Linked DNA regions of Homo sapiens. The protein of the gene in region 7 interacts with the protein of the main gene of each other region in a biochemical or structural test. Each region holds a gene or a part of one and is shown on either strand. Other genes may lie near its edges. The genes, in order: DUSP15, TUB, NCAM1, KDR, RAC1, SH2D1B and PLCG1.

Region 1 (4,671 bases), 9.3 Mb from region 7:
CCTGATGGCCAAGTGCGGAGGGAGCTCACTGCCTGCCCAGCTCTCCCTCTCACCCCACCACTCCACCTTGGCCCACGCTCTGCCGGCTCCCTGATCCTCTTGCTTCTGGGGCACATGCAAGTAACAGTACAGCATATCCCCATCCTTGCTCATTCTGTTCTTTCCATCCAAAACACCCTTCCCAGGCATATTCTTTGACCCAGCAATTCTGCTTCTAGGAATCTTGTCTACAGAAGCGCTTGCTCACACAGAAAGCTGTGTGTGGAGGATGATGTTCTCTGCAGTCCTGCTTATATCACAAATAGTTTAAACATGGGAACAACCTGGTGTTCATTAAAAAGGGACTGGATGATTAATGGTGTAGGCATACTTTGGCACAGTGTGCCGCCATTAAAAAGAGTTCTATATGCTGATGTGCAATGATGCCCACAATGTTTTTTTTTTTTTTTTTTTTTTTTTTTTTTTGAGACGGAGTCTTGCTCTCTCTCCCAGGCTGGAGTCCAGTGGCGCGATCTCGGCTGACCACAAGCTCTGCCTCCCGGGTTCACGCCATTCTCCTGCCTCAGCCTCCGGAGTAGCTGGGACTACAGGCTCCCGCCACCACACCCGGCTAATTTTTTTGCATTTTTAGTAGAGACGGGGTTTCACCGTGTTAGCCAGGATGGTCTCGATCTCCTGACCTCGTGATCCGCCCGCCTTGGCCTCCCAAAGTGCTGGGATTACAGGCGTGAGCCATCGTGCCCGGCTGATGCCCACAATGTATTTTTAAGGATACAGAATAAGCTTCCACTTTTGTTTTAAATACTATGTCCTTATCTACAAAGATATATGAACAAGGATGTACCCAACAGTGGCCCTCTCTAGGGGCTGCATACCCAGCATATGCAGATCTTTTATATTCAGAATGAATAACACATGTCCCCTCTATCTCCACTTCCTCATTCGATGAGCATTTACCGAGTGCTAACCATGTGTATACTTTGGCTGGGCACTGGAGGTCTGGGGCCAGCTTCGTGGCTCCTGCCCTTATGGGGCCTGCACACTTACAGAGGGTTCAGACCTTACTTGGCCAAATACTCACAGAAATCAAGGTGGCATGAGCGGCTGAGGGAGCTCCCAGGAAGGAAGGGACCAGGATTTACAAGGGTGAAGCACCTGAGCCCCTCCCTCTCTAAAGCTTTTTCTGACTCTGCAGATGGAAATGATTTTCCCACTTTGAGTCACCCAAGCCCTGGATCAGTCTGCCCCTTAGCATGTTTTCTTTTCTTTTTTCTTTCTCTTTTTTTTTTTTTTTTTTTTTGAGACAGAGTCTCGCTCTGTTGCCCAGACTGGAGTGCAGTGGCACGATCTCGGCTGACTGCAACCCCCGCCTCCCGGGTTCAAGTGATTCTCCTGCCTCAGCCTCCCAAGTAGCTGGGATTACAGGCGCCTGCCATCGTGCCTGGCTGATTTTTGTATTTTTAGTAGAGACGGGGTTTCACTATGTTGGCCAGGCTGGTCTCGAACTCCTGACCTCAGGTGGTCTGCCCGCCTCCGCCTCCCAAAGTGCTGGGATTAAAGGCGTGAGCCACTGCGCCCAGCCCCCTTAGCATGGTTTCTACCCAGCATGTTTTCTACCCAAGGTCTATGTTCAGCTCTGCCTGCCTGCCACCAGCCTGGAAGCCCCTGAAGAACAAGGTATCTATACATGGGTGTCCCCTCCTCCTGACTGAAGATTGTGGAAGGAATGGATGAGAGAGTGGGGAATGCAAAGCTTGCCGGCTCACCGCCCCCCCAACTTCCAGCTCTAGGCTGCCCAGCTGCTCCAGGGCTCTGGGGTGCGACAGTGTTGGTGCTCATGACCCTGCTCACAAGAAGGCCCAGCCCATCTCCAGGGACCTCTCCTCTGACAAGGAGGAAGTTATGGGGGGAAGAGTTCCCAGCTTCCCCGCTAGAAGCAGCACCCGCAAACAGACCTCAACCCAGAACCTCAGGGCCAGAAGAGTGCTCAGCAGCTGGTGGACCTTTTGTGCTGAGGAGGAGGCTGAGGCTTAGCGCAGGTGTAGACTTGCTCAGGTCCACAGCCCAGGCCCCGAGCCCTTTGCTCTGGCCCTTTGGTCTGGTGGTAGAACACTGGGGAAGGCTGAATGGCGGGGAGGGATGTCAGTGTCAGGCCCCCATGCTCCCTCCATGTCCCTTCAAGCCTGGGGACACTCGCCTGCATGTGCACCCCTTGTCCTCCATCAGCCTTTTCCCCCTCCCAGCCTGGGGCCGCTTCCCTGCCCCCAACCCCATTCCTGAGATGCATGGGCCAGGGCATGAATGGTGGACACAGGCCTGAGACAGGCAGAGTGCCATGGCCTCGGGACAGAGTGGGCAGTGCTCACCAATGAAGTTTCCGAGGTAGAGTCCAGGAAGTACCTAGAGGAAGGACAGGCAAGGGTCAGTGGGGCAGGGGCTGCACCCCCTTCCACCCCCAGGGCAGCTGGGGGGCCCACAGCCCCTCTCTGTCCCATGAAGGGTATGGACCTCAGGGCTCAGGGAGCACTCTCTTCCCTTTTGTGGGCCCTGAGTCCTCTGTGAGAGGGGTCTGGGGCTCTGGGGAGGGTAGGCTAGGGGGCCAGTTAACCAACCGAGGGAACCAAGGGAGGCCAGCTTGGGTATGAGAGGGGAGAGGAGGAAGGCAGGTCTTAGGAGGAGAGGAGAGGAGAGAGGTAGACTTGCAGGGTGCAGGGATGGAAATTCTGGGGCTGGGGAGGCAGAAAGGCAATGACAGGCAGAGGCGGGACAGGATGGAGAAACAGCCCCGGAGAGAGCCGAGGAGTCAGCGACAAGGGAGAGGGACACATGCAGACGGAGAGCAGGACTCACTGGGAGACAGCCTGGGAGTGACAGCCACAGCAAGACAGCGAGAGACACACAGAGTCACGGAGAGAGGGCGGACACAGCGGGGACAGAGACGCAGGGTCAGAGAGGGGGAGACCCGACAGCCGCGGTCTCGAGTCACAGGGACACGGAGATGCCGCCGCACGGAGACCGGCGAGAACAGAAGGTCAGAGGCGGGCGGACCGAGCTGGTCAGCGCCGGGCCGCGGCGGCCGGGGCGGGGACCGGGGAGGCTGCGCGGGGCCCGCCCCCTACCTTGGTCATGCCATTGCCCATGATCCCGGGGGCGGCGGTCCGGGTGCACCCCCAGCTCGCCGCCCGGGAAGCGATCCGGTCACAGCTGCCCTGACGGCCCAGGCCCGACGCCTGCAGCCTGGCGGGGAACGGGGGGCCTGGCGTCCGCGGCCCTGCCCAGCCCTGCCCAGCCACCGCCACCGCCCGCCGACCCCCGGCCCGGGAGGGAAATGGTGGTGGAGCCGCCGCTGCCACCGCCGCCGCCGCAGGCTCCTCCTACCCCTTCGGTCATGTGGGGCCCCCGCCTCGGGTCGCGGCGGGGGGCCGGACAAAGCCCCAGTGTGCCGGGCCCACGGCCCGCGGGACAACGGCAGTTTGTTGGGGCCGCGTGGGGCCGCCACCTCCGGAGGTGGGGGCGGGGGCCTTACCCCACCCTGGCACCGGCAGGCGCGGGCGGATGGGGGGATGTCGCCTAGAGCCCCCCGGCCGGCCCACAAACTCCCGTCCCCCTTCCGGCTCTGCCTGGACGTCCCTGCGGGCCCCGGGGGAAAGCACCCAACTTCTCCCGCCTCGGCTTCTAGCAGAAACGTGACGGGGCTGGACTTTGATCGCCGAGGGCTCTCTGCTCTTCAGAGTCTGCTTGGAACGGGATAAGTGGGTAATTCCTTCCGATACATCCTCTCCACCCGTGCAGAGACACCCTACCAACCAGCCTTCCTCCTTTCCCATCCATTCTCCCACCCTCCTGTTCACTCATTCACTCGTCCATCTTCCCATCCATTCATCCATCCTCTCACTCCTTCCTTCCATCCATTTCGGCCCCTAGGAGGGATGGTGCCATCCAGGGAAGCTCTGCTGGGACCAGGCACAACTGCCATTAGGTGCCCCAAGAAATTACAGGTGAATGTTGGGAGAGGGGTTTGAGGGAGGGTTCCAGTCTGAAGGAGACTACATCAGGATGTATTAATAGCTAGAGGTCAGGGTCCTGGAAGGGGTCTGGAGACCAAGGTTTGAGGCCCTGTTCACCTCTGACCTGCTAGATGACCCTGGGAAAGTCCCCGTGACCCCCAGCTAACCCTATCTGTGTTTCTGAGGATGTTGAGGTGAGCCCTTCCTGGCTTCTAGGACCAAAGCTGGAGAATGTAAAATAATCAAGACACTTCCTATAGGACTGAAATAGAAGCAGCTGCACCAGCTTTGTTCCTTCAGCCATCACCCCCACCCCTCAATCTATAGTAGTAGGTGACTGGGGATTGTGGATAGAGAGCAGGACAGAGAGAATCCACAGAGCCCTTTGAAATACAGTGATTGGAGAAAAATAAAACTGTTTCTTCCTCCCTCAAGTTCATAGCATACATGGGGCTGCCCGTCTCAGCTCTCATAAAAGCCCAGAGTTCTCATAAATACCAAATTATTCAGTAAATACTTACTGAGCATCTAGTATATGATAGAGACTAGGGACACAGCAGTGGGTAGAGATTGTTCCTACCTTCATTAGCTAATGGTATAGACCAGCATTGTCCAAATGAAATATAATGCCAGCCACATGTGCAGCCACATTTAAAAAGTAGAA
Region 2 (4,678 bases), on a different chromosome or scaffold from region 7:
CTGAGCCAAAATTACCCATAAGAAGATTATCACCAACTATCATTTCTCTAAAGAAAATAAGCTGGGCCCAGGGAATGCAAGGTGTAACCATTAGAGAGGGAGTAAAACCCTCACCAGCAGAACCAGCAAGAAGCCAGCCAACCCCTCTCTCCCAAACCAAATGCCACATTCCAGCTCTGACATGCTGTGACATTAGGGAAACCTCACACCAGTCAAAGCACGTGCATGCCACCCCCTGCCCCCACTCCCATCTGCAAGTAAAATGCTTTGTCTGTCTTCTGCCCCAGTTTTCTCTGTGATCAGACAGCATGTGGCTTTGACTGCAATCAGCAGCCCAGTTAATGCAAGAGGCAATTTGAATCTCCTCCTCTCAGCCCAAGTCTCCCATTTTGGAAGTCTGCACCCCAGTTCCAGTACTTTGCCACACTCAGTGCGTGCCCAGAAAGACCCCAGCAGGGCAGGGGGGATCCTGGCAACTGCTGACATAGCCTGCCTCCAGCTACACACCCCCCTCTCTACAACAGAACGAGGAGGTGGAGTGACAGGCATGGGGAAAGCAAGCAGTGCAGGGCTATAAGGGTGTTGAGACGCTCCTCGGGGCCAGGCTTCCAGGGAGGCAGGATTCTATGCTTCAGGGCTGAGTCTGCGGCCCAGGAAAGGAATTGGAGGGGTGGCGGTGGAGGGGAGATAGTAGTTGGACCTGGGCTGAGGCAAGTGCCAAATCACTCCTTGCAGGATGCCAGGGCCCTAGGCACTTGCTAGAACAGGATCATTTCCTAGAGACAGTTCTACCTTCCTGGGCCACCTTTCCCAGGAACAGGCTTAAGCCATTCCGTTTGAGGCATATTTTCTCTAAGACCCCTGCACACTCTCTACAAGTGGCTTTAGTCCCTGGCTCCCTGGGAGAAGCTTTCTAGAACCATGTCTTGGCCTGGCCCAACCTCCAGTTTGCCAGATCCTAACCACGTCATAATCTCCACAGCCGTAAGTGCTGCCCCTCCCACCCTCCTCGGTCCATGGCCACCACCCTGCCATCTGGACCCCCGCACACAGGTACTTCCACAGCACCGGAGTCCACTCAGCCCACAAGCACCGCCCAGGCACCTCTGCCGCGTGGCTAGAAAAGGTTGATGACGCTCCATGGGGCTGCACTGTCTTCTAGAAGGTCCTCAGCCCACATGTGCCAAGAAAGGCCAGGATCCTCCAGAAACTACCTGTGCCCCAGCCTGGACGTCTGTCTGGCGCAGCAGCTCTTCTCAGTCAGCACAGCCCCAGTCCCTGGTTCCATGATGGAAACAGCTCCCTAATCCATGTGAGACTGAAGTGTGACTACATGTGTCTGCAGGAGAGCCTGTGGGTGACCTGTATGTGCGCACGTGTGAGGGTGTTGCTGGTGGTTGTGGGGAGAGACACAAAATAACCTGGAAACCCCTGAATCCCCCACAGGAGCTGAGATTAGAGGTAACAATTCTCAAGAGAAACCCTGAGTTCCCAGGCCACGTGCCTGTTTTCAGAAGGATCTGCTTTTAAGAAGCCTTGGGCGGTTTCAGCTGGTTTCCATTTGGGACGCTGTCTGGACAGACTCAGAGAAGAGCCCTGTCAGAACTATTTTCTATCAGTGACTGGTATGAGGCTCTAACAGAGAGCAAGCTGTGTTACAAGGCGGGACCTGAGGATCTCATCCTGCCGTCCGCTAGCACGTGCACCTGGGTCGACAATAACACAGTGGGCCTTAGGAGTCCAGCACCCATTTTCCACAGAGACAGCCCCGTAGCCCATGGCAACCAAGGAGCCAATGGGTGGCCAAGAATCTGGCGCTGCCATGGCGATGAGCTCCCTTCCCTGGTAATAGAATGGAGTAGAGTGGATAGGGAAAGACCTGCACCTGTGAGGGGCCCCCCAGAGACCACCTCCCCGCCCCCTTCCCAGGCAAATGGGAAAGCCCAGCCATCCTTGAGATAGACCACAGTGCCTGGCAGCAGAGGGTGGGGGGCTTCCCTGAGTGTGCCTGGATTCTTGAGTGCCTTTCTGCATGTGAGGGCAGTTCTATGTACTGTGAGCTGGTGTGTGTCTAGGTATAGACCTGCTAGCAAGTAGATTATTCAGTGTCTGAAAGAGACTGAGTAGCACTTGTGAGTGAGAAGCAGGTGTCAGTTATTCTCCAGATACAGGAGGTGGACGTGCACAGATATGCAGGCATGTGTCTTTGTGAGCCCAAGAATTCTTGTGTGTAGAATATACGGGTGCATGTCCACATGACCACTGGTGTGCTCTTGGTTCAGAATAACTGTCTTCACGGATCCATGCTTTGAGAGTGTGAACCGACCAGCAGGAGCGTCTTTGGCCCAAGGCAGGGACGTCCTGTGGGTGCATGCGTGCAGATGTATGAGCGTGTGCGCGCACCCTGCACAGGCGTGTGACTGGGGTTCTGGGCCTAGGAGGGGGCTCAGAGCAGTGTGGACTCCTTCCCCAGGCGGCCACATGGTGCTGCCTGACCCAACAAGGCCCACACAGGCCCCTTCCAGCAACCCTGGCAGATAAGGGGGTGGAGCGGGGCAGGCGGGAGCAGTCCGCAGGGGCCCTCAAAGTTGAGGGAGGAAGGACCAGCGACTCCAACCCGCGCCCCAGTGCTGGGATAGGTGGGGAGGGCAGCGGTGCCCTGCGCCCCGGCCGCGTATCCCCAGCCAGCTCACGTCCCGAGTCGGGAGTGGTGGGCGCCCCGGCCCGGCGCCCGCGTACCTGTAGGGAATCCAGTCGGAATGCGGCTTGGAAGTCATGTCTCTCGGGGGCGGGGCGGTGGCTGCGGCTCTGGAGGCCGGGGCCCGGAGGGGCCGGCGCGGGGGCCCTGCTCAGCTCCCGGGCCGCCCCGGGCCGCATCCTCCCGGGCCGGGGCGCTGGGCCCCGCCGAGGCCCGCGCTGCACGCCAGGGCCCCGGCTGCTGGCTCTGCGAGCGGCTGCCTGCGCGGCGCGGCGAGGCGAGATGGGCGAAGCTCCGGGAGTGCGCGGGTCGTGCGCGCGCGTGGAGGCGGGGAGGCCGACCGCACCGTCCCGCGCCCCTCTGGCGCCAAGGCGGGAGTACTGCGTGGCAGCGGCGGCCTGCCCCTTCTCCCTCGCCCCGCCCCGCCCCGCCCCGCAGAGACCCCACCCCCCGGCCGGCTCAGGGCCTGCGGAGCGCCCTTGCCCCCTCCCCCGAAATCGTCGCGATCCACGCTCCATGCGCGTGACCGCGCCGGCTCCCACCTTCGGCTAACGGCGGCGCTGCAGCCGGGCCAGTCCCCAGGCCTCCCAGCCTCAGTTTCGTCTTCTGTGAAACGGGGATCATTCGAACACCTCCCTGTGTACCTGCCCTACCTATCTGCGCTATGGGATGGGAAACCGATGCGCGGATTTGGCGGGGCAGGGACCGGGCCGGAGGCGCGGATGGAGAAGGAATCCAGTCGTGCAGGAAGAGGCGGGGGAACCTCCGGGCCGAAGCGTGGAGGTTGGCCTTCCCTCACCCCCACCTCCGAGTTCCCACACCCCCGCCTGGGGAACCCTCTGTCTTTGGGTTAAGGAGGTGTTTCCTCAGCAGTGGCTCCCTCCCATCTAAGCTATAGCGTCAAGGGAAGGGGAACATTTACGGTCTATTGCATTCCCAGCCCTTGCAAATTTCTAGTATGTAATCTCCACAGTAGCCTTGAGAGACAAACATCATATCCCTATAACCCAGAGAATAGGAATGCTGAGATGCCCAAGGCCGTAAAGCTAGGAAGTGGTGGAGCTGAAACTGTTCTGTGATCTGTGTCCTCCAAAGCCCTTCCTAAGGGGCGCAGTTGACCGGAGGCAAAAACCCCTACAAAGATCATCTGAAAGTCTCTGCGCGCTGAGGAGGTCCTGGCTGTGACTAGGACCAGCTTGAATGCAAGGCATGGCACACTGAGAAGGTGCGGGACCCACAGCAGGGCGGGCGGAAGCAAGGAGCAGCAGGCTGAGGGGTCACCAAGGCCTGCGTGTGGAGCAGGTGATCCGGGAGAGGTCTGCGGAGGGGCACGGTCCCCACACGCCCCGTGGGCGTCCTCGTGTGCATCCTGGATTCTGCCGCGCCAACCGCGCCAGAAGAGTGTTGTGCGGGGATCTTCTGATGATAAATAGGCGGTCAGGACTGCCCCGCAGAGAGTGTGAGAACAGCCAAGGGGGCTGAGGGAGGGGGCTCATCCTGCTGCCCTGGGGCTACAGCCAGACCCCCACCCCAGGGCTCTCCCAGCCCTTCAGCCTTGCCTTCTCTTGCCCATTAATTATAAAACACAATAACCCACAATATTTGGATTATTTGCTGGGCGTCAGGAGCTGTGTTAGGTGCTACGTACATATTATAATTCGTTTAATCCTCATAGCCACCCTAGAAGGTAGGCACCATTAGCATACCCATTTCACAGCAGAGGAACTGAGTCACAGAGAAGGCAAGGATCTTGCCCAAAGTCACACAGCTGGTCAATGATGAAGCTAGCATTCACACACAAAAGGTCTGGGTCTACAGCACTTACCCTCAGCCTCCTTTTGGCCAATCACAGTTCATGTAGTGCACACACACACACCCCTACACACATGCACACACACACGCACACCTACACACACCTACACACATGCATGCACACACACATGGCCTCTCTCTCCAGGCTTCTGGAGCTCAGGACAGGTC
Region 3 (4,030 bases), on a different chromosome or scaffold from region 7:
AAAAAAAAAAAAGAAATCTAGATGTTACGGTGGGGAGGGGATTTAGCTCAGACGGATGATTGAGTCAGGACAGGATTTAATTTACAGACCCAAGAGGAAGTTAAAGAGAATGATTTTGGAGAACCAAGGTTGTAGCAATGCAGAGATCAGGAAGAACGGACTCTCCTCACCATTCACAATGACCTGAATGTCCTTGAAGTTGATCTCCCCCCGTGCCAGGATTCTGCCCTCACAGCGATAAGTGCCCTCATCTGTTTTCTTGATGCCCCGGATCTGCAGGTAGTTGTTGGACAGGACTATGAATCGGACTAGAAGAGATAAGAGGCAGGTTCATCCAAGAATCAGTCAGAGAGCATCTGCAGGCAGGTGGCTGAGTCTCTTTCCTTTTTCCTAACTTCAGTATCATAGGGTGGGGTTTTAAGCCCAAATAAGAAAATGCGTCCCTGGCTTTGAAATACAGCCAAGAGTAAATGTCTATTAGAAATTTGTCTTTCGTACTGGAGAGAAAATCAGGTACCTAAGTATACCAACTTCAGATATGCATCTATTCAGGACCCAGAAACCACATGAGGGTTCGGGCACACATGAATTGGAGTTTGGACTGGAATGCCTCAGTACAGGTGAAAAAGCTAGGGAACTTGGTGGCCTGGGGAAAAGGCAGATGCCAGGAAATTCAGGTCTCACCATCTTTTTTCAGGATGACATCTCGGCCTTTGTGTTTCCAGATGATGGTTGGTGGGAGGGAGCTGACCACATCACACACAATCACGGCATCTTCCCCCTCCCGGAACTCCTGTGGGGTTGGCGCATTCTTGAACATGAGCTTCTCTGGAAGATGAACAGAAGAGTGAGGGAAAACAGCTGCTTCTCTCACAAAGAACCCCTTTCACTAGAGCCATGGTACCTGGACTTGAGTCCTGGGCAAGTCTCGATCCTGATGTACAGTTGTATAAGAGGGGCACCCTCAGAGACGTCAGGCAGAGCAGCTGGCCCAAGCATAGGTTACCAATGCTTGGCAACCAATATCTGCTCATTGAGTGCTAAATTTATCACATTTTGTGCAGAAAAGGGTCTACAGAATGAAAGGAATATCTTCACCAAGGGTTCCTTGTCATGCAGGATGATGCCAGTGAAGCACAGGTTATAGGTAGAATGAACTGGTGGAACATCCATTCCACAACGAATAGTAAGAATCATCAGTCCTTTTCTTGTCTCCCACTCGAACTGCTACTCCCAGTCCCACCCCAACTTTCCTACGGCAGACAGAATGCTGATGAAAAGAACAGGAAAAAAGCACATTTAATGGCAATAAATACCGTGCAATCAATACTGTTCCATTAGCTGTCACCCACCATTACTCCAACCACTGGGATGGATGCATGATATAAATAACAAGGTAACGAGATGCCACCTACAGATGGGGTTTCAGAGGCAATAGGAACTGCCTGCTCTGAGTGGCAGAGAGTGTTCAGATAATGATCCCCCACCCCACTGAGCCCTGGGCTCCATTACCAGCAGGGGAGAGGGAAATAAGAAGGGAGAGGAGCCCAAATTGCAGAACAGTCAGCCAACATTTGGGGAAGGGATAGAGAAACCCGTAATAGCCCTCTGGGAACTATGTAATTTGAATTTTGAGAATGAACGCCTGTGGGGGAGTAGCTGTGACCAGTGTGAACCAGGGTTGTGAGTTCTGGGTTGGCCAAGGTCAGAAAAGACTTAGGGAGAGAGAATGGGACTGGTTAGGCCCTCAGCTGGTCCTTCTGTCATCATTTCCACCTTTCCACTACCCACATGTCTCCTTGGCAAGGAGAGGCCAGAGAATGCAGAAGAAGAAGGAGGCTCTTACGAAAGATCTTCACGTTGACGGTGGCCTCTGACTCACTGCCATCCTCGCCTGTAACCACACACTTGTAAATGCCGGCGTCGTCGATGTTGGCGTTATAGATGGTGAGGGTGGAGGAGGAATCATCATTCCACACCACTGAGATCCGCTGCTGGTTTGGGGTGAGCTTTTCTCCATTGGGGGAGAACCAGGAGATGTCTTTATCTTTGGCATCTCCTGCCACTAAAGAGGAAGAGATTATTTTTAAGCTACTGAAGTCGAAAAGACTAATAAGTCCCCTCCAGACTGACAGTGGCTGATCAGTAAGAGTTACTGAACAACAGATCAGTCAAGGCTTGAACATCAGGGAGGGGTGAGTATGGCTGCTGGAATGACATGCAGCCCTTCTTTGGCCTCTGCATTTAACTATTATATACTTAACACCTCTTACAATATTTGGAAAGAACTCAACAACCACTTGTACTAGTTGTTATCATGGTCCTATCCCTAATGATGGAAGAGAAGAGATACTTGTTGAGAACATACTGTGTGCTGGGCACTAAGCTAGGAACACACATGCCTCACACAACGGGTAACCAAGGGAATTAGTGTATTTAGGATTCGGGCGCCAGAGCCTAACTGGTCTGAGTCTACTGATCAGCTTGTTTTTGAAGCCTTGGATAATGGGTCTCCTGAGATGAAGGCGAGAAATACTGGCTAGTATAGGAGTGCAGATTCCAACCACTTTTTATTTCATTTTTTCCAGCCACATTTATTCTAGCATCTGCCTGCACAAACTGGCATGACTGTCATTTCGTCACTCCCTGCTCAGACAAATTCATTTCCTTGCATGCTGCAAAGAAGGTAGCCAGAACCACCCATTCTTCCTTTCCCCAGGCAGCAATGAGGAGGAACAGACTGTGGTGGCTGAGCTGCCCCCGGCACTGAGCTGGAACAGGGCTCTGACACTGAAACTGCCCAGGACACTGAGCTGGAAGGGCGCTCAGATCCGGCGGATGTGGCGGCGCCCTGCCTGTTTGCATGGGCCCCTGCCTCTTCGCGTGGCGCCCTTCTCAGCCTGCACCACCCAGCCCTGCACAGATGCTTAGTATGGAAATGAAGCAGTCTTCCTTTCAGGGCCCATCATGTTTTCAATAAATATCGCTATTTGCAAGATGTGCTGTGGGCTCCACGGCTGCGTCTCCAGATCATTGAAATTGCTGTAATGAAGGCAAAGCTGGAGTGAACACATCCGACGGCCACAAGCCACCTCGTCCACGCAAATCATGACAGCATTTAAAGGCCCCTCCCTGCCAAAAGCTGCTTGCTAAATGTCACCATTTACACCTAGCTCAGCTCTTTCCTGGTTCTTCCATGTTCTGAATCCCAGTCATGTCATATACAGAGAATCTGAGGCTTAATTTGAAACCTTTTCCTCCACAGGACATTTTCTGGCAATTATCTGGGCTGTGGAAATGGGGCATGTTTTCTAAATGTAAAACAAGGTCACCAGGTCTGGCATATCTCAGAGCTCTGGTGGGGACCATGGCACAGAATATCGATATTCACAATAGACCTGGTAAACCCAGGATATATGTCCTCACAACAAAAGCCATACCAGTATTCTATTTACCTACAGGCAAGTTTTAGACTTAGATTTTCAAGCTCTGGGGAATTCTAAGAAATAAGCCTTAAACAGATCCACCGAAGTATTGTTTCTGAGCCAGTGCTGTTCTCCATTGTCATTTACAGAACTCTGAATGTATACAGAATAGGAGATGGGGGATGATTCACTATTCTGGAAGTTGTGCTGATTTTTCTAAGAAAACTCCTAGACTTCCTCTGTAGTCAAGGTGAAGTCTAGATGACAGATTTGCTATGTTGAGGCAGATTTTTGCAAAAGGAAGGAAGAGGCCCTGGCTCTTAAATGGCCATACTATTGACCCTGTAATAGAGCAATGCCAAGAATTCTAGGTGTGGCTTGACCAGCCAGCTCACATGGCCTGAGGGCTCCTGCTCTACCCAGTGAGTTTCTGAAGCAAGTTCTAAAATGCAGCTGAGCACTAGGCACTTGCCTTGGCATAAGAAGAATTTGGACTCTCCAACGCTGATCTCCCCCTGGCTGGGAACAATATCCACCTGCAGAGAAACTGAAAAAACAAAACAAAACAAAACAAAACAAAAAACAAAAAAAAACCCACAAAGTTC
Region 4 (3,145 bases), on a different chromosome or scaffold from region 7:
GTGTGGGGGTGGTGTGTGGTGGGTGTGTAGGACGTGTATGGGGGAATGTGAGGGGGGTTGTGACTGTGGGGGGTGGGTTGTGTGTGGGTGTGTGTGGGGTGTGGGTGAGTGCGGGGGTGTTGGATGTGTGGGTGTGTGGATGGGTGTGTGGGGGGTGGGTGTGTGTGGGGGTGTGCATGTGGGGGGGTGTGTGTATGTGGGTGGGTGTGGGTGTGTGGGTGGATCTGTGTGTGGGTATGTGTGTGCTGGTGGGTGTGTAGGTGTGTGGGGGTGGGTGTGACTGTGAGGGGGTGTGAGTGTGAGTATGGGGGGTTGGATGTGTGGGTGTGGGGGGGCTGGGAGGAGGTGTGGGTGTTGGGGGGTGTATGCGTGGCGTGTGTGTGTGTGTGTGTGTGTGTGTGTGTGTGTGTGTGAATTCTTTGTAATGAAGAAGAAGAGGGAAGAAGCAGTTAAACTTTAAACCAGACATACTTATCCTCAAAATAGTTGTGGTGATATTATACCCTCATACTTTGTACTACAAATACATTTATTGGTTTGTAAAATATATAATCAGTTTATGAAAATATCCCTTATAAGAAGAGTAAGAAAACCAGTAAAAATGTAAAACAACCACATGGAAATTATGTCTGATTCCTTCTTCTCCATTTTATTTTATTTTTACCTTTTTTCTTTGAGATGGAATCTGACCATGTTGGCCAGACTGGTCTTGAACTCCTGGGCTCAAGCGATCCTCCCACCTTGGCCCCCCAAAGTGCTGGGTTTTTAGGTGTCGGCCACTGTGCCCAGCCACCCCCTCTTCCATTTTAGAAATGATGGGTACAGTAATGCAACCTTGCAAAGGGATTCCTTCAAGTTTTTCAATGTTCTTTAATAAAATGACATCAATTGCTGAAAGCATTATGACCTTTGTTATGCTACATAATACTGATACAAAATGTGAATAGTACAAAGTTCATTATATATAAGGCTTTAATATATTACATTTGTTTCTACATAAACAGACTATAAATATATGTGCCATAGCATGTCTTATAGTCATTGTTCCCAGCATTTCACACTATGGTACCAAACAAAAAACACATTTTCTTTTTTGAAAAAAAGGACAGAACAAGGGCAAAAATCAGTAGAAATAGCTCTATATGTTAAAAGTCTAAATAATACAATAGATGTTATAATTTGGGCTATAAAATAATTTTGAAGTCTGGCTAATAATCATTCAGAGAGTGAACAAACCCAATCAGGTTTACTGGAGTAGAGGCCAAATAACTAAAATACTGATGGGTTGCGGGGTGAGAGTGGGTTGGGGACAGGGGGAAGAACAAAAGGGTAAAATCCTTCCTGAAACTTTGACACCACACACAGCTTCACATTGAACCTCCCGCATTCAGTCTCAGACATATCACATCAGGACAGATATGAGGGTATTCATTCCAGAAGAAACCAGAAGCTGGTTTGTGCAGTCAGAACTCTTCAACACGGCAGGGAGCCTTGAGCTGAATGTCCTTTCTTTGTGGTATTCTGAATAAAGGATCAGCCTGGGAGACAAGGAGCCAGAGCTGCATCATTTCCTTCCTGGGGCTTGGCCAGGAGACACGTAACGGTCTGGAAGGAACTCTCATTAGGAGTCAGAAACAGCACAACGAACTCTACTTTAGCCCAACTCGAAGAACACGCAACCTTCTAAAACCAGAAACCCCGTCTGAACCCTTTACATTTCAGAACAGACCCCATGCCCACCTCCACCAGAGCAAACACAATGCATTTGCAGGCTCCAGTACTCTCCAAAGCAAGGTAACGTTAGTCTTCCTTTCTATCAATCCGAATTCCACACTTAAGGCTTGGCTTGGGACCCACGTCCTAAACAAAGCCTCTTGGATAGACTCAGCCCTGCAAATCCTTCCCATCTTCAACACCTCGAACACTTACATTGCCTGGTTTATCTTCTAGTTTTACAGAAGTGTCAGCTCCCCAGGTACTGCTACTTCTTTGAGGATGGGGCCATTTCTTGAACGTCTTTGTTCTAAACCCATGGTGAGACCCGCAGCAGGGGGCATGATAAATGCTTTTTAAATGAATGAAAAAGAGGATCAGGTCAACACTGGGAGAAGACACAGACACATTCTTGGGTCACAAGCCTCTTCCAGGATATGCCTAGAAGACTGGCTCCCTGCAGTCCGAGGTCCTTTTTCTGTTGTCGAAATGAAAATCAAATGCGGCTACTTCCTGCTGGTGGAAAGAACAACACTTGAAAATCTGAGCAGCACCTCTCATGTGATGTCCAGGAGTTGGGGGTGTGGATGCTTCCTTTTAAACAGGAGGAGAGCTCAGTGTGGTCCCCGAGTCAGGCTGGAGAATCTGGGCTGTGCTACCGGTTTGCACTCCAATCTCTATCAGCTTTAAAAGTTCTGCTTCCTCACTGGAGTACACGGTGGTGTCTGTGTCATCGGAGTGATATCCGGACTGGTAGCCGCTTGTCTGGTTTGAGCCTTCAGATGCCACAGACTCCCTGCTTTTGCTGGGCACCATTCCACTGCAGAAGAAATGGCAAACAAAGGAGTTGGCAGAGAGAAGACAATTCTTTTGCTTTTTACCCTCACCCCATTCCCAACTCCATATGGCTGCCATCTCCCTGGAGACCGCAGCCCCGTATCTCTCCCAGTTGTTAATCAGCATAGCAGGTTTACAGGGACAAGGTCTATTTTCAGGTACTCGCATGAATTAGTAGTTGCAGATAAGTCCTCTTACTCAGGTCCAAGTCTTTCAAGCCTCAAATGAGATGAAAGGCAGTTCTCTCGAGTTATGCAAAGGCCCCAACTGATGGAACATGTTTATGGCCTCGCAGATTGACAAATTTGTATACAGTGACAGGCGCCAAAGGGCCACTTGCATGATATTCAAGGAAATTGGGATGTTCTTAAATTTCACTTGTGCTTTTCCTATTGTGGCAATTTGGGAATTACGGGGCATGTGTATGGTTGTAATAAAGCTCTTGAGCAACTTTAAACTTTAATAACTTGAAGCATGTGTGCAGTCAAGCCAGACATATCAAACGCTGCTTTTTACTCATCAAAACCACATTCCTTGGAAGGACTGAGAACCCCTGTCACTCAGCAGCAACTAGAAAATGTTTTCAATGGCATGG
Region 5 (3,500 bases), on a different chromosome or scaffold from region 7:
GGCTGGACAGAACCACGACCGGACAGAACGGGCTCTACAACCGCAGGGGAAGGGGGGAAGGGAAGAGAAACAAAAGGAAGGGAGTTCCTCCCAAAGCAAATAGATCACTTTGTTTTTGGTAAAACAATTTCTTAGGGTCATCTGAGAAAATTCATCATCTGTTCAGAAATGAGAATAAACTACCTAGCCCAAGGTCTCAGGTCTGCCGCTATTATCTCCACTGAAAATGCCCCTACTGAAGGGCCTCACTTGTCATTTTCACTAAGAAGTTTGTGAAAGAGACTGGAGTAGAAAGAAATGGTCGTTATTTTTATTAGACCAATTCTGAGTGCCTCATTATTTTAATGAGACCCAGGAAACTTCTGAACCAGAACCTGAAGCTTTAAAAATCCACGTATTAGGCCGGGCATAGTGGCTCACACCTGAAATCCCAGCACTCTGGGAGTCTGCGGCGGGTGGATCACTTGAGGCCAGGGGTTCGAGACCAGCCTGGCAAACATGGTGAAACCCCGTCTCTACTAAAAGTACAAAAATTAGCCAGGTGTGTTGGCGGGCACCTGTAATCCCAGCTACTAAGGAGGCTGAGGCAGGAGAATTGCTTGAACCGGGAGGGGGAGGTTGCAGTGACCCAAGATTGTGCCACTGCACTCCAGCTTGGATGACAGTGCAAGATTCTGTCTCAGCCGGGCACGGTGGCCCACGCCTGTAATCCCAGCACTTTGGGAGGCCGAGACGCGCGGATCACCTGAGGTCGGGAGTTCGAGACCAGCCTGACTGACGTGGAGAAACCACATTTCTACTAAAAATACAAAATTAGCCGGGCGTGGTGGTGCATGCCTGTAATCCCAGTTACTCGGGAGGCTGAGGCATGAGAATCACTTGAACCCAGGAGGCGGAAGTTGCAGTGAGCCAAGATTGCGTCACTGCACTCCAGCCTGGGCAACAAGAGTGAAACTCCATCTCAAAAACAAAAACAAAAACAAAAAAAAAGACTCTCTCAAAAATAAATAAATAAAATAAACTGCTGATGGGCCAGATGCAGTGGCTCACAGCTATAATCCCACCACTTTGGGAGGCTGAAGCTGAAAGATCACTTCAACCCAGGAGTTTGAGACAAGCCAGGGTCTACAAAACCAGCCATACAAAAATTCTTTTAAGATTAGCCACGCATGGTGGTGCACATTTATGGTCCCAGCAACTCAGGAGGCTGGGGCAGGAGAACTGTTTGAGCCCAGGAGTTCAAGGCTACAGTGAGCTCTGATGTCACCACTACAACTCCAGCCTGGACACAACAGAGTGAGACCTCCGTCTCAAAAGAAAAAAAAAAACCCAATCATGTACTTAAGTAGCAAATTGCTAAAACCAATTTAAATAACTAAAAATTCCTAGGCTAAGTGATATTTTAAAGTATTTATTTCTGAGAGGATCATTCTATAACTTACATACACATTTTAAATCCCCACCTACCTTTGCACGGACATTTTCAAATGATGCAGGACTCACAAGGGAAAAGCAAATTAAGAACACATCCTACAAAAAGGAAACACAGGGAAACATTTAGACAACAACCTTAGAATGAAGCATGCACTTTGCTTTCTACATGTTGCTGGGAAGGACTTGTTGGACGCAGAGCGTGTCTACCAGTGGTGTGGTCAGACGCTTCCTGATCCACCCTTTCAGTTTGTCAGAGGGCTCCCAAACCAAACCCAGCATGTCAAGCCACCAGTTACTTATGAAAATGGGGAGCATGAAGGGAGAATGATGCTGGAAGCTCTTCAAGGATCAGGAGGATCAGACCAGACCCTCAGGAGGCTTCCTTTACGCCTAACTATCTAAAATGAAAAAATCAAGTATAAAGGTATGATTCCAATATTTCTGTAAAATCTGGTTTAGAGTACAAACAGTTTTAGATGGTCACTGGTTCCAATTAAACTGCTTCTTCAGGAGCTGCCTGTCACAGCTCCCAGCACCAAGCGGGGGCTCCAATATTTGCTACTTGAGCCCTTCCCTCCACAAGGAAGGAGGACTTAGTGTGTAAGTGGCACCTTCACAGCTGACAACCACCCTCACGCTGCCCTAGAGTCAGCACAGCCAGGGCCTCAGGAGAACTCGCTCCCGGGGCAGCTGTGGCTGACGCAGAGGCGCAAAGGGTGGGTGCAGAGGACAGAGTAGAGGGTGCTTCGGGGCACACGCCAAACATCTGCATGCTTCATCCATTCTGTATTTTGTGTCAAACCAAATTCAAATATTCACCTGTATTTAAAAATGCCCAAGAATTCTAAAATGCTAGATTTCTAAAATATTCTCCTGGAAAAAGGCAATTATGCTACTTTATGAAATGCACACAATTCCCAAGCTACACTTTCAACCCTCCAGCTGATACCTTGTACCTGAAAGGGAAAGAAACATCCCACACAACAGCTTTTTATAACTGGCATTTGAAGAATGCTGGCGCATGCACAAGCTCGTCCAAGAATCACCGCGGCACCCAGCACACCATCTCAAGCACGGTGGGGTTAGCTCAGCAGCACTGCACAGCCACGCCCAGACAGCCCCACCACACGGGACACCCAAGCGGAGAAAGAAGGCCCCGGCAACAAGGTTAGTCCTGCTCCGGCTCGGCTCACAGCCAGGTGGGCTTCCGGGAGGAGTCTCCATATCTGCATCTCCAACCAGCCAGGAGAGGGGCCCTCTCACTGTCCCCTCCTTTCACTTGGGAGGAGAAGATCACAGTTCACAAACTGCTTTAATTCAAGCCGGTGGGTAAACTATCACACTCTAATGAAGTTTATTTCATCAAGCAAAACCCCAACCTTGAGTGAATTAAATATAAAACACTCAAGGAGCTTGAGGCTTAATAAAAAATCCTAGGAAAACGAAGTGAAATGAGAGAACAGAGAAAGCTTGAAACTGAAGTGGACTGAAAGTTTTACATACGGCAATCGGCTTGTCTTTGCCCCGGGAGGTTATATCCTTACCGTACGTTTCTCCAACCTAGTAATGCATGAGAACTTGGTTTGAGTTTAGTACAGACTGAGGACAACAAAAATCAATATAACCTCTTATCGATTCTTTATTAGAATTTTGTCTTAACCCTCCGGAGAGATCCAAAAGCATACAATAGATTCTAACATATCTTCGATGACAAATGCCACTGAAACACTCCACGCTACCTGGTCAAAAGCAGGCGTTAAGTTCAACGATGGTGAAGACAGAGGTCAGGGAGATCCTGAGGGGGGGCAACAACGTGCTCCTCCTCCCATGGCAGCACCCACCAGAATCTACAACAGCTGGCACAGCCGGAGATGTTCTGCACTGTCCCTTACCGCAAAGGCAGGCGGGAGCCACGGGCACTTTCAAGTGCTCCATCCGAGTTCTCAGACACAGCCTAGTTGAAGCCACAGCATACAGGAAAAGGACCCGTCTGTAAATGATGCCTGCCAAAGGGCTCTCCCAGAACATAGCCGGGCCTCAGGGTTTTAATGCTGCCAGAACATTCC
Region 6 (4,030 bases), on a different chromosome or scaffold from region 7:
TAGGAACTTCAATTTGACGTGGAGAACACAATGAAGCTGGGAAATGATGGCAACAGAAACTGTTGTGTCTCTGGACGGGAGACGGTGAAGAGCTAGTTGTGCTGGGGCAAGCAGTGGGAAGGGAAAAAACAAGAAGGTGCAAGGACAGACCTTGGCCAGGATCTCAGGGTATATGGTCAATATGGGATTCTCTTCCTTCCTTTCTTTCTTTTTTTTTTTTTTAGACAGGGTCTCACTCCAGCTCCTAGGCTGGAGTGCAGTGGTGCGATCATGGCTCACTGCAACCTCAACCTTCTGGGTTCAAGAGATTCTCCTGTCTCAGGCCCCCTGAGTATCTGGGACTACAGGTGCGCACTACCATGCCTGGTTAATGTTTAAATTTTTTGTAGACATGGGGTCTCGCTATGTTGCCCAGGCTGATTTCGAGCTCCTGGGCTCCAGTGATCCACCCACCTCAGCCTCCCAAAGTGCTGGGATTACAGGCATGAGCCACTGCACCCAGCCTATATTGGGATTCTCTTTGAAAATTGATATTTATTCTCAACTGTTCTGTGGTGCATCAGCCCATCTTGCATATTCATCTAAAGCAAAGGTCACTAAGAGATGCTAAAAAATGGGCCAGGCGTGGTGGCTCACACCTGTATTCCCAGCACTCTGGGAGGCCGAGGCGGGCAGATCACTAGGTCAAGAGATTGAGACCATCCTGGCCAACATGGTGAAACTCTGTCTCTACTAAAAATACAAAACTAATTAGCTGGGTGTGGTGGCATGCGCCTGTAGTCCCAGCTACTCAGGAGGCTGAGGCAGGAGAATTGCTTGAACCCAGGAGGCGGAGGTTGCAGTGAGCCAAGATCGCACCACTGCACTCCAGCCGGGTTACAGAGCGAGACTTGATCTCAAAAAAAAAAAAAAAAAGAAGAGAAAAAAAGAGAAGCTAAAAAATGAAAATAAACCAAGTGGAGAGGCAAAAATAAATATTTGTTAAGCCCCTGCACATGATCAGGTCTCACCCACCTCCCTACACATGTCACTGAAAGGCAAACAACATTTCATTCACCCTCAGGCTTAAGGCTTAGGTCAAGTGACCCCTGAAGCTATCTCCTCATAGGGCCTTGTAAAAATGTATTATCATACAGATAAGTATGGACTATTAAATTCTAGTTGTTCAACAAATATTTGAATTCTCTCATATGTCAGACAGTGTGCTAGACACTCGGTTGATGCCTTCAACACAACTCAGAGCCTAGTGGGGAAAATAAAGAAGTAAACAGACACAGTGATGCATGTGATAATTATGATGATTGGACTATCATTAGGGCACTGTAGAGCTGACAGCAAAAAGGGGAGAACCAGATATTGGAGCTGAGACTTTAGGAGAATAAGTGGAACCTTCATTCATTCAACAAGCATATACTGAGCACTTATTATGTTCCATGCGTGGTCCTAAGCATTGGTAATACAGTGATAAATACTACTGGCAATGTTTCTGCCCTCATGAAGTTAATTTCAGTAAGAGGAGAAAATATGATGAAAATGAAACAGAGTCATATGACAGGGAGAGACACAGCTGCTGCTTTCCATTGGGTACAGGAAAGGTTTCTCTGAAGAGGTCACATCAACCAATTCATGCTTCAAGATACAACCCTTTGCAAGCAAAGCAAGAATTACTATTATGATACAAGTGTTAGCCTGCTTGTCTTCACTGACACAGAAAAAGTTACCATGTAGGTATTATCTATGAGCCAAACATTTTGCTAAGCATGGTACATGCATTATCTTATTTGTCATTTGCAATCCCTTTGCGGTAGGCGACATGATCACTATTTTGTGAGAAAATAAACTGTAGCTTCTTATTTAATAGCTTGCCTAGGGCCAAATTGCTAATATGTTATTACATTCCCTCTCTTACCAATGTCCCCAGCTTCACTGAAATATGTTTCAGGTAATCACCTTGGATCTGTGTTATAAAATGCCCAAGCAGGGGACCTGAGGGCTTGGGAGTGGACTCTGATATGCAGTGTCCCCTTCTTCTCTGCTGCATTAAAATGGGTCTCCCCTGGACACCCAGCTTTAAAATTTCTCTGTTTTGTACTCTTTCCCTTTATTTCTTAGACTGGCCGACACTTAGGGAGAATAGAAAAGAACCTACGTTGAAATATTGGGGGCTGGTTCCCCCGATACTTCAGGACTTTCACAGAGCTAAATATTTAGTGATGAAAATACTGTGAGGAAGGTTAGAAATAAAAGAAGGAGGTCACAGAGAGAGCTGACCTAGCAGCATATGGCACTAACCAGAAAGCTATGTGGTAACTGTGGACAGGAAATGTTTTCTGATCTTACAATGTAATAGAGTGTCTAGAAAACTCCAGTGTGTAAAAGGTTGTCTGTGTAGTGTGACTTTGTGAGTGTCTAAACTGTCTGCCTTTATCATCAGTAAAATTAAATGGAGTAGATATTAGGAGGTGCAAAGGATTCATCTGCAAGTGTGAAGAAAAGGAGGACTTTGCAAAGCCATAGGAAGGCTGCAGGTGAGGAAGACCTGAGCCCTAACCTACTGCATGCTCTCATTAAGAATAATAATGGCAATGTCTATCTATTGCCTTGAGAGTCATTTATGAGTCTCAGATTCTGAGACTTTTGCAAGGATTGTAGAGTACAGAAAGAAAAGAAATGATCCATTTTGTTGTGGTGGTTTATCAAGCTAATGAAAATTCATTTTAGAAAATCAAATATAGAGAAAGGTATAAAAAACAAAACAAACTATATCAGTCTCACCACTCTGAAATCACCATTTTTAATATTTTGGCATACATCTCTCCAGACTTCTCTGCGCATCTATAAACCAATATATGTACATAAATGGTTCATTATACATGATGGCTTGCAACCTGTTTTCTCCATAATTGTAGGTCTCTTTCCCCATCAAAGAAAGCAGGTCATCCCCTTATGACTGCTTAGTATTTTATTGATTTGATATATCATAATGTATACATATCATACATTAGGTTATTTTCAATTTTCATTTGCAATTTAGTCCAGTGGACTCAGTGTAATTTGGAATGATTAACATTTTTGTACTTACATCTGTGAAAGTTTGCCTTACTCCCTAGTTAGGATAAAATCCTAGATGTTTAAAAAAATCTTCATGCACACTGAAAAATTAGTACCACAAAAGGTTGCACCAAGATACACTGAGATCAGGAACAGTGATAAGGCCAGAGGTCAAAAGTCTTAAAATATTTCTTTGTTGACTTGGATTTCCCACTTGCATCATGGCATGGAAAAATGCAGAACACATTGTTGATATTATAGGGTGCAGTCGATTCCATTTCCTTCAGCTGACCTTTTGAAGGTTAGTTAAAATAAAAACTTGAACACAAACAAGTTTCCCCACAACAATGGCCACAACATGAGACCGTGCTAATCTGTGGGCTGTTCATGCGTTGAGCAAGGACTCAGAGATCCGTGCACAGCACCTCATGGAACGATCACTTTGAAAGCTAAATAGATAGAGTAAAACAATTCAAAGATATGGGAAAACTTAGAGGTCCTGTATTCCAGCCTTTTTGAACCTCAACTGAGAAATTAATGCCTAAGATTTTTAAATGTTTTTTATAAGTCCAGTGTATTTCTCATAAATGACGACAACGATTTCCATAGAATAAACAAAAAGGTAGGCTCCACTGGGTATCAGTCTCACACAGAGAGTCAAGACACCACATATTTATTGAGAACATAACTGCAAAAATAGGAAACACTTTTTCTATCTGAGGCCAAAAACCAATCATGAAAACAGCAAAAGCACATATGTATAAGGAATTAAAATTTAGTTTATATATTAGAAAGATAAATTATATTCATCTACCTTTTTATGCCATGAATATGTCTTACTGCTTTATTGAGGTATCACTGACATAAAATAAAAAGTGTACAATTTGATGGATTTTGACATATGTATGTACACTTATGAAACGAACACAGCCAAGATAATGAACATATTTATCACCTCCAAAACTTCACTTGCACCCCT
Region 7 (4,030 bases):
GATGAGTGCAGGACGGGTTTTGAAATTGAGGCAATGAGTCCAGCTTGTCCACAGATGGAAGTCTAGGCTGGTCAAACACATGTGGCCAGAGGGAAGAAAAACAAAACAAAACAAAATAACCCTCTGTTCCTATAGAACGGTCCATCCTATTATCATTTTCCCCAGAATGGGAGAATAAACTGAATACTATAGCAGGAATCTGAAATCCTAGGATCTGCCATGAACTTGCTATGTGACCTTACCCTTAGGGCTTGGTTTTCTCCTCTGTAAGAGAGGGATAGTAACTCCTGCCCTCCATGGATTCATGGAGCTGCTGTGAAGTTCAAACAATACAACAGGTGAGAAAATGTTCCATGAACTCCCAATATGCTATTCCAATTCCAGAGTTTTTTGATGCCCCAGTCCTCTGTGTACAGACTCAGGGAAGGAACACAGAAAGCAAGTAGGAAACAGACTCCTAGCCCAGGTTGTTGGAGCAGCCACTTGTGGCCGAGCTTAGTGGTGGAAAAGATTGGAGCTCTGTGGTTAACAAAGGTGAGAGTAAAGGAAATGAATACTGTTAAGTGGCCACTAAGTGACAAATGTTGTGCTGGGTAGTTTTCACATAAAATCTCTTACTCTTATATATAATCTCCCTTATTATTAATATACAGCTCTGTGAGGAGAAATTACTTTTACAGCTAAAGATCAATTTCAGACAGGGAAAAGTAATCTGCCCAAGGTCACAGTAAGAGCTGAGACCTGAACCCAAATCTGACCAGCTCTAGCCACAAATCTCCAGGCACTTCAGCTCAATTACCAGCAAGGTGGGACTATCTGGTCAATGGTAGCCTGAAGCCACTCCTCACCCGTGGCTCCACCTTGAGTCTTGCCACCTGTAAACATGCTGCTCTCAGAGATTCCCTCCAAGGACGCACTGTTCCCATGCTCCTCTCAACAAGGCACTCTACAAGGGGCACCAGAACATTCCCATCCTCCTATCCCACACCCATCTCTCCTAGGACTCTCCTCACAGTCTGCAGTGACTTCTCTAGTTCTAACAAAGCAAGTGGAAAGGGGGAAAAATCAGTCTCCTAATATCACACCTTTGCAATCTCAGGCCTCACTCCCTTCCTCCAACTTATCATCTGTGGTCTCCTTGAAGCCACATCCCACAGGAAAAGGCACAGAGTAAGAAGAGATGCTGTGAGTTAACGGAGACTGACACAGAACAGTGACAGCAGAGGCAGGCCCTACCACATCGAGGCTGTGGCATTAGAGCACTTCCTCAAAGACAAGATCTCTCCAGATAGCGTCCTGGGCTAGGCACTTAGAAATAGGACAATATCATACCTTCACTCTACAGAAGGGGTTACCACCCAAAGCAGCTGCTTCCAGCCAACTGCCCTGTCTCCCTGCAAAACCAGCAGTGGGAAAGAGCCCTGACAATAGAGGGACTGCTGAGAGCTGCAAGAGAGGATGGGCGGGCCTCCTTGCCTCTGAATCAAAGGGCTTGGTGGCCAGGCACCAGCCCCTTAGGACAGCAGGTGCATTCGAACTCCTCCCCACCAGGTCCTCCTGAGAACTTAATCCTCATCTCTGTCCTGTCAGGGATCCTACGTAGTAAGCACTTACACTGTGCCACACTCCATGCTAAGCACTTTATACAGGTGCTAAGCACTTTATACAGGTTCTCATCAAATCCTCACAAAAACCTTATAAAATAAATGCCATTTAATACTATCCTTTTTACAGATAAGCAGCCCAGAGAGGTAGTCATATGCTTTAAGGTCACAGAGCAAGTAAGCTGCACAACAGGATTTTAATTCAAGCAGAGTCTAGGGCCCAAATGCTTAACTACTAAGCTCTGTCTCACCCCTCAAGACCCAGCCCTTCTCCCATCTACCACCATGGCATCCCCACCCTGCCTCAGCAAGAAGGTCTTGTCTGGGCCCTCAGCAGCTCTCTCCTGCAAACTGTGCAAACCGTAGGAGCTCACTGGCCTCCCTCCCCAACACCTGCCTGACAAACCACTGCCACTGTGGTCTCCCAGGCAGAGGCAAGTCAGTCCCACAACAGCCTCCGCTGACTCCCGTCGCCTCCAGGACTGAGTGTAATCTGCTGGACATGGCACACTAGGGCTATAGCTGTCTCCAACCAGTCCCAGCTTCCTCTCTACCACACCATATCTGTTCCCTACCCCTGCACAGAGTGATTCCCAGTTCCTTAGCCTCGGCACAGACAGGTGCCTCAGTAATTCAAGGCCTACCTCAAAGGTCACCTCTCCTTTAATGCCTTCCTGGCAGAGCTCCTCACAGTTCTTGGTAGAGGCCTTTATATTATGGTATGTAACACACAGGGTTATAATCATATGCCTCTACATCTGTCTTTTCCAAGAGTTCATCAATGGCACAAACCATGTCTCAATAAACTTTTGAATCCTTGGTGCCTAGCACTGGGCAAATGGGGAGGTATAATAATACTTATTGCAAATATTAATAAATGTGCCTCATTCCAAGAAGCTACCCAGAGCAAAGCTGGTAGCCAAGATCTCTAAACTCCAACTGAATCCTGTGCATCTGTGTACACACACACACAAGAGTCTGGAGAGAAGCTGGAGGTGTTGTGGGTCCCAGGACTGGGTGTGCTCAGCTCCTCCAGTTATCTGTGAAGCAGGCCCTTTTCCTAGGTTCACAGGAAACAGAGGATCCCAGCTGGGCGGGGGGGCCTGGAAACCCACACATCGGGGCAAGCCTGGGGTGCTGAGGAAACACTAAAAGGTCTGACTTCCCTTGGAAAAAACTACATCAGACAGGAAATACACAGGCAGGGATGGCTAGCTCTGGAGATCCGGACATGTGCTCCTGCCCCTCTCCCACTGGGAGTAACAGCCAGTACAAAGAAAACCCTTGATGACACCGGCCTGGGCCTTGCCCTCTCCCGTGCTGTGGGCCTAGCCCTCGGAGCAGGCCTCCTGGTGTGGTCTGCTCCCCAGCCACAGGGGTCAAGCCCCAGCCAGCTGGTTCCACTACTACCTCCCTTCTGAGCCCGCCTGCCTCATCAAGGCAGTTAGCTGTTTTCTTCCGCCACCCTCACCCTCTTCATCAAAGGTACTGCTCACAATTGTCATTGCCTGTTTTCATTTCCCTAAAAGCAAGCACCCATACTCCTTCACCTCAGAGGGCCTGGCATCTAGAAAAGTATCTAGTGAAGGATCAGCCAAAGACAGAAGCCTGGGGCCTCAGAAGTCCCCATGGACATGCTCAGCCAGTATTCAGAGTACCTCCACAGTGTCTACACCAGTGTTTACTGGGCCCACAAAGACCCTCAAATGGACAACCTCATTAAACACGAGTCTGAACCATCTCAACTCAGAAAACACCAGAAGAAAAAGTGTGGAGCCAGAGCCTAGAGAGGCTGAGGCTGTCTTGGGATACAAAAGCCAAAGTGGTCTTTGCCCTGTAATGCATGGTCTGAGCACAAAGGTGTCTCACAGAGGAGCCACGTGGACCACAGGGAACATGGGCTTGGGGTTGCTAGTCAGCCTCTGACTAGTGAGCTGGCCCCAGCTGAGGCCCTGGCACACACTGACACAACACCTTGGGCACAAACGATTCTCCATTTCCATTTGCTCATCTGTAAAATGGGACGAAAGGTCTCAATAGCACTCAGCTGGAACTCTACATAACTGCATTTTATTCATTTATGTCAGTATCTGCAACATAAAAGGCCAAACACCAACCTGGTTCCTGTCATACCACCAGGACAACCAAACTTGTCAACACCTAAGCACTTCCCCACCCCGCTTTTGAGCCAAATGACCACCCTAGAAATCAGGAGGTGTCAGCTCCATTTCACAACTGCTGACAAGAGAGGGCACAGAGTCAGGGCAGAAGAAGGTCTTACATATCAGTATGAGTGCTCCTTAAACCACACTGTCTCTCCCTCAGGTCTACCAACACCCTGAAGGTAGCACAGTGTCTCTCTCTTAGGCCAGGCTTCAGGCACTGCTGGTACCCTGGTAGGGTCAGCAGGAAAGGCCAGATACCTG

What was found.
Region 1: the proteins of PLCG1 (region 7) and DUSP15 interact in a biophysical measurement, tested with the Homo sapiens proteins (one large-scale study listed by IntAct).
Region 2: the proteins of PLCG1 (region 7) and TUB form a complex in vitro, tested with the Homo sapiens proteins (one study listed by BioGRID).
Region 3: the proteins of PLCG1 (region 7) and NCAM1 form a complex in vitro, tested with the Homo sapiens proteins (one study listed by BioGRID).
Region 4: the proteins of PLCG1 (region 7) and KDR form a complex in vitro, tested with the Homo sapiens proteins (one study listed by BioGRID).
Region 5: the proteins of PLCG1 (region 7) and RAC1 form a complex in vitro, tested with the Homo sapiens proteins (one study listed by IntAct).
Region 6: the proteins of PLCG1 (region 7) and SH2D1B interact in a biophysical measurement, tested with the Homo sapiens proteins (one study listed by IntAct).

The regions. Positions count from the first base shown.
Region 1 is NC_000020.11:31,867,198-31,871,868, forward strand, and holds the start of DUSP15 (dual specificity protein phosphatase 15), read right to left. Parts: upstream 3,331-4,671; 5' UTR 3,141-3,330; coding exon 3,120-3,140; intron 3,035-3,119; exon of another isoform or gene 2,613-3,034; intron 2,593-2,612; exon of another isoform or gene 2,509-2,592; intron 2,401-2,508; coding exon 2,367-2,400; intron 2,204-2,366; exon of another isoform or gene 1,956-2,203; intron 1-1,955. Other genes in the region: probable tubulin polyglutamylase TTLL9, read left to right, coding at 3,930-3,998. UniProt on the Homo sapiens protein: May dephosphorylate MAPK13, ATF2, ERBB3, PDGFRB and SNX6.
Region 2 is NC_000011.10:8,079,610-8,084,287, reverse strand, and holds the start of TUB (tubby protein homolog), read right to left. Parts: upstream 3,078-4,678; 5' UTR 2,778-3,077; coding exon 2,740-2,777; intron 2,404-2,739; exon of another isoform or gene 1,289-2,403; coding exon of another isoform or gene 1,215-1,288; intron 1-1,214. UniProt on the Homo sapiens protein: Functions in signal transduction from heterotrimeric G protein-coupled receptors. Binds to membranes containing phosphatidylinositol 4,5-bisphosphate. Can bind DNA (in vitro). May contribute to the regulation of transcription in the nucleus.
Region 3 is NC_000011.10:113,202,321-113,206,350, reverse strand, and holds part of NCAM1 (neural cell adhesion molecule 1 isoform 2 precursor), read right to left. Parts: intron 3,973-4,030; coding exon 3,898-3,972; intron 2,066-3,897; coding exon 1,847-2,065; intron 829-1,846; coding exon 685-828; intron 309-684; coding exon 171-308; intron 1-170.
Region 4 is NC_000004.12:55,077,631-55,080,775, forward strand, and holds the end of KDR (vascular endothelial growth factor receptor 2 precursor), read right to left. Parts: intron 2,534-3,145; coding exon 2,311-2,533; 3' UTR 851-2,310; downstream 1-850. UniProt on the Homo sapiens protein: Tyrosine-protein kinase that acts as a cell-surface receptor for VEGFA, VEGFC and VEGFD. Plays an essential role in the regulation of angiogenesis, vascular development, vascular permeability, and embryonic hematopoiesis.
Region 5 is NC_000007.14:6,398,156-6,401,655, reverse strand, and holds part of RAC1 (ras-related C3 botulinum toxin substrate 1), read right to left. Parts: intron 2,995-3,500; coding exon of another isoform or gene 2,938-2,994; intron 1,531-2,937; coding exon 1,468-1,530; intron 1-1,467. UniProt on the Homo sapiens protein: Plasma membrane-associated small GTPase which cycles between active GTP-bound and inactive GDP-bound states.
Region 6 is NC_000001.11:162,405,300-162,409,329, reverse strand, and holds part of SH2D1B (SH2 domain-containing protein 1B), read left to right. Parts: intron 1-4,030. UniProt on the Homo sapiens protein: Cytoplasmic adapter regulating receptors of the signaling lymphocytic activation molecule (SLAM) family such as CD84, SLAMF1, LY9 and CD244. In SLAM signaling seems to cooperate with SH2D1A/SAP.
Region 7 is NC_000020.11:41,140,426-41,144,455, reverse strand, and holds part of PLCG1 (1-phosphatidylinositol 4,5-bisphosphate phosphodiesterase gamma-1), read right to left. Parts: intron 1-4,030. UniProt on the Homo sapiens protein: Mediates the production of the second messenger molecules diacylglycerol (DAG) and inositol 1,4,5-trisphosphate (IP3). Plays an important role in the regulation of intracellular signaling cascades.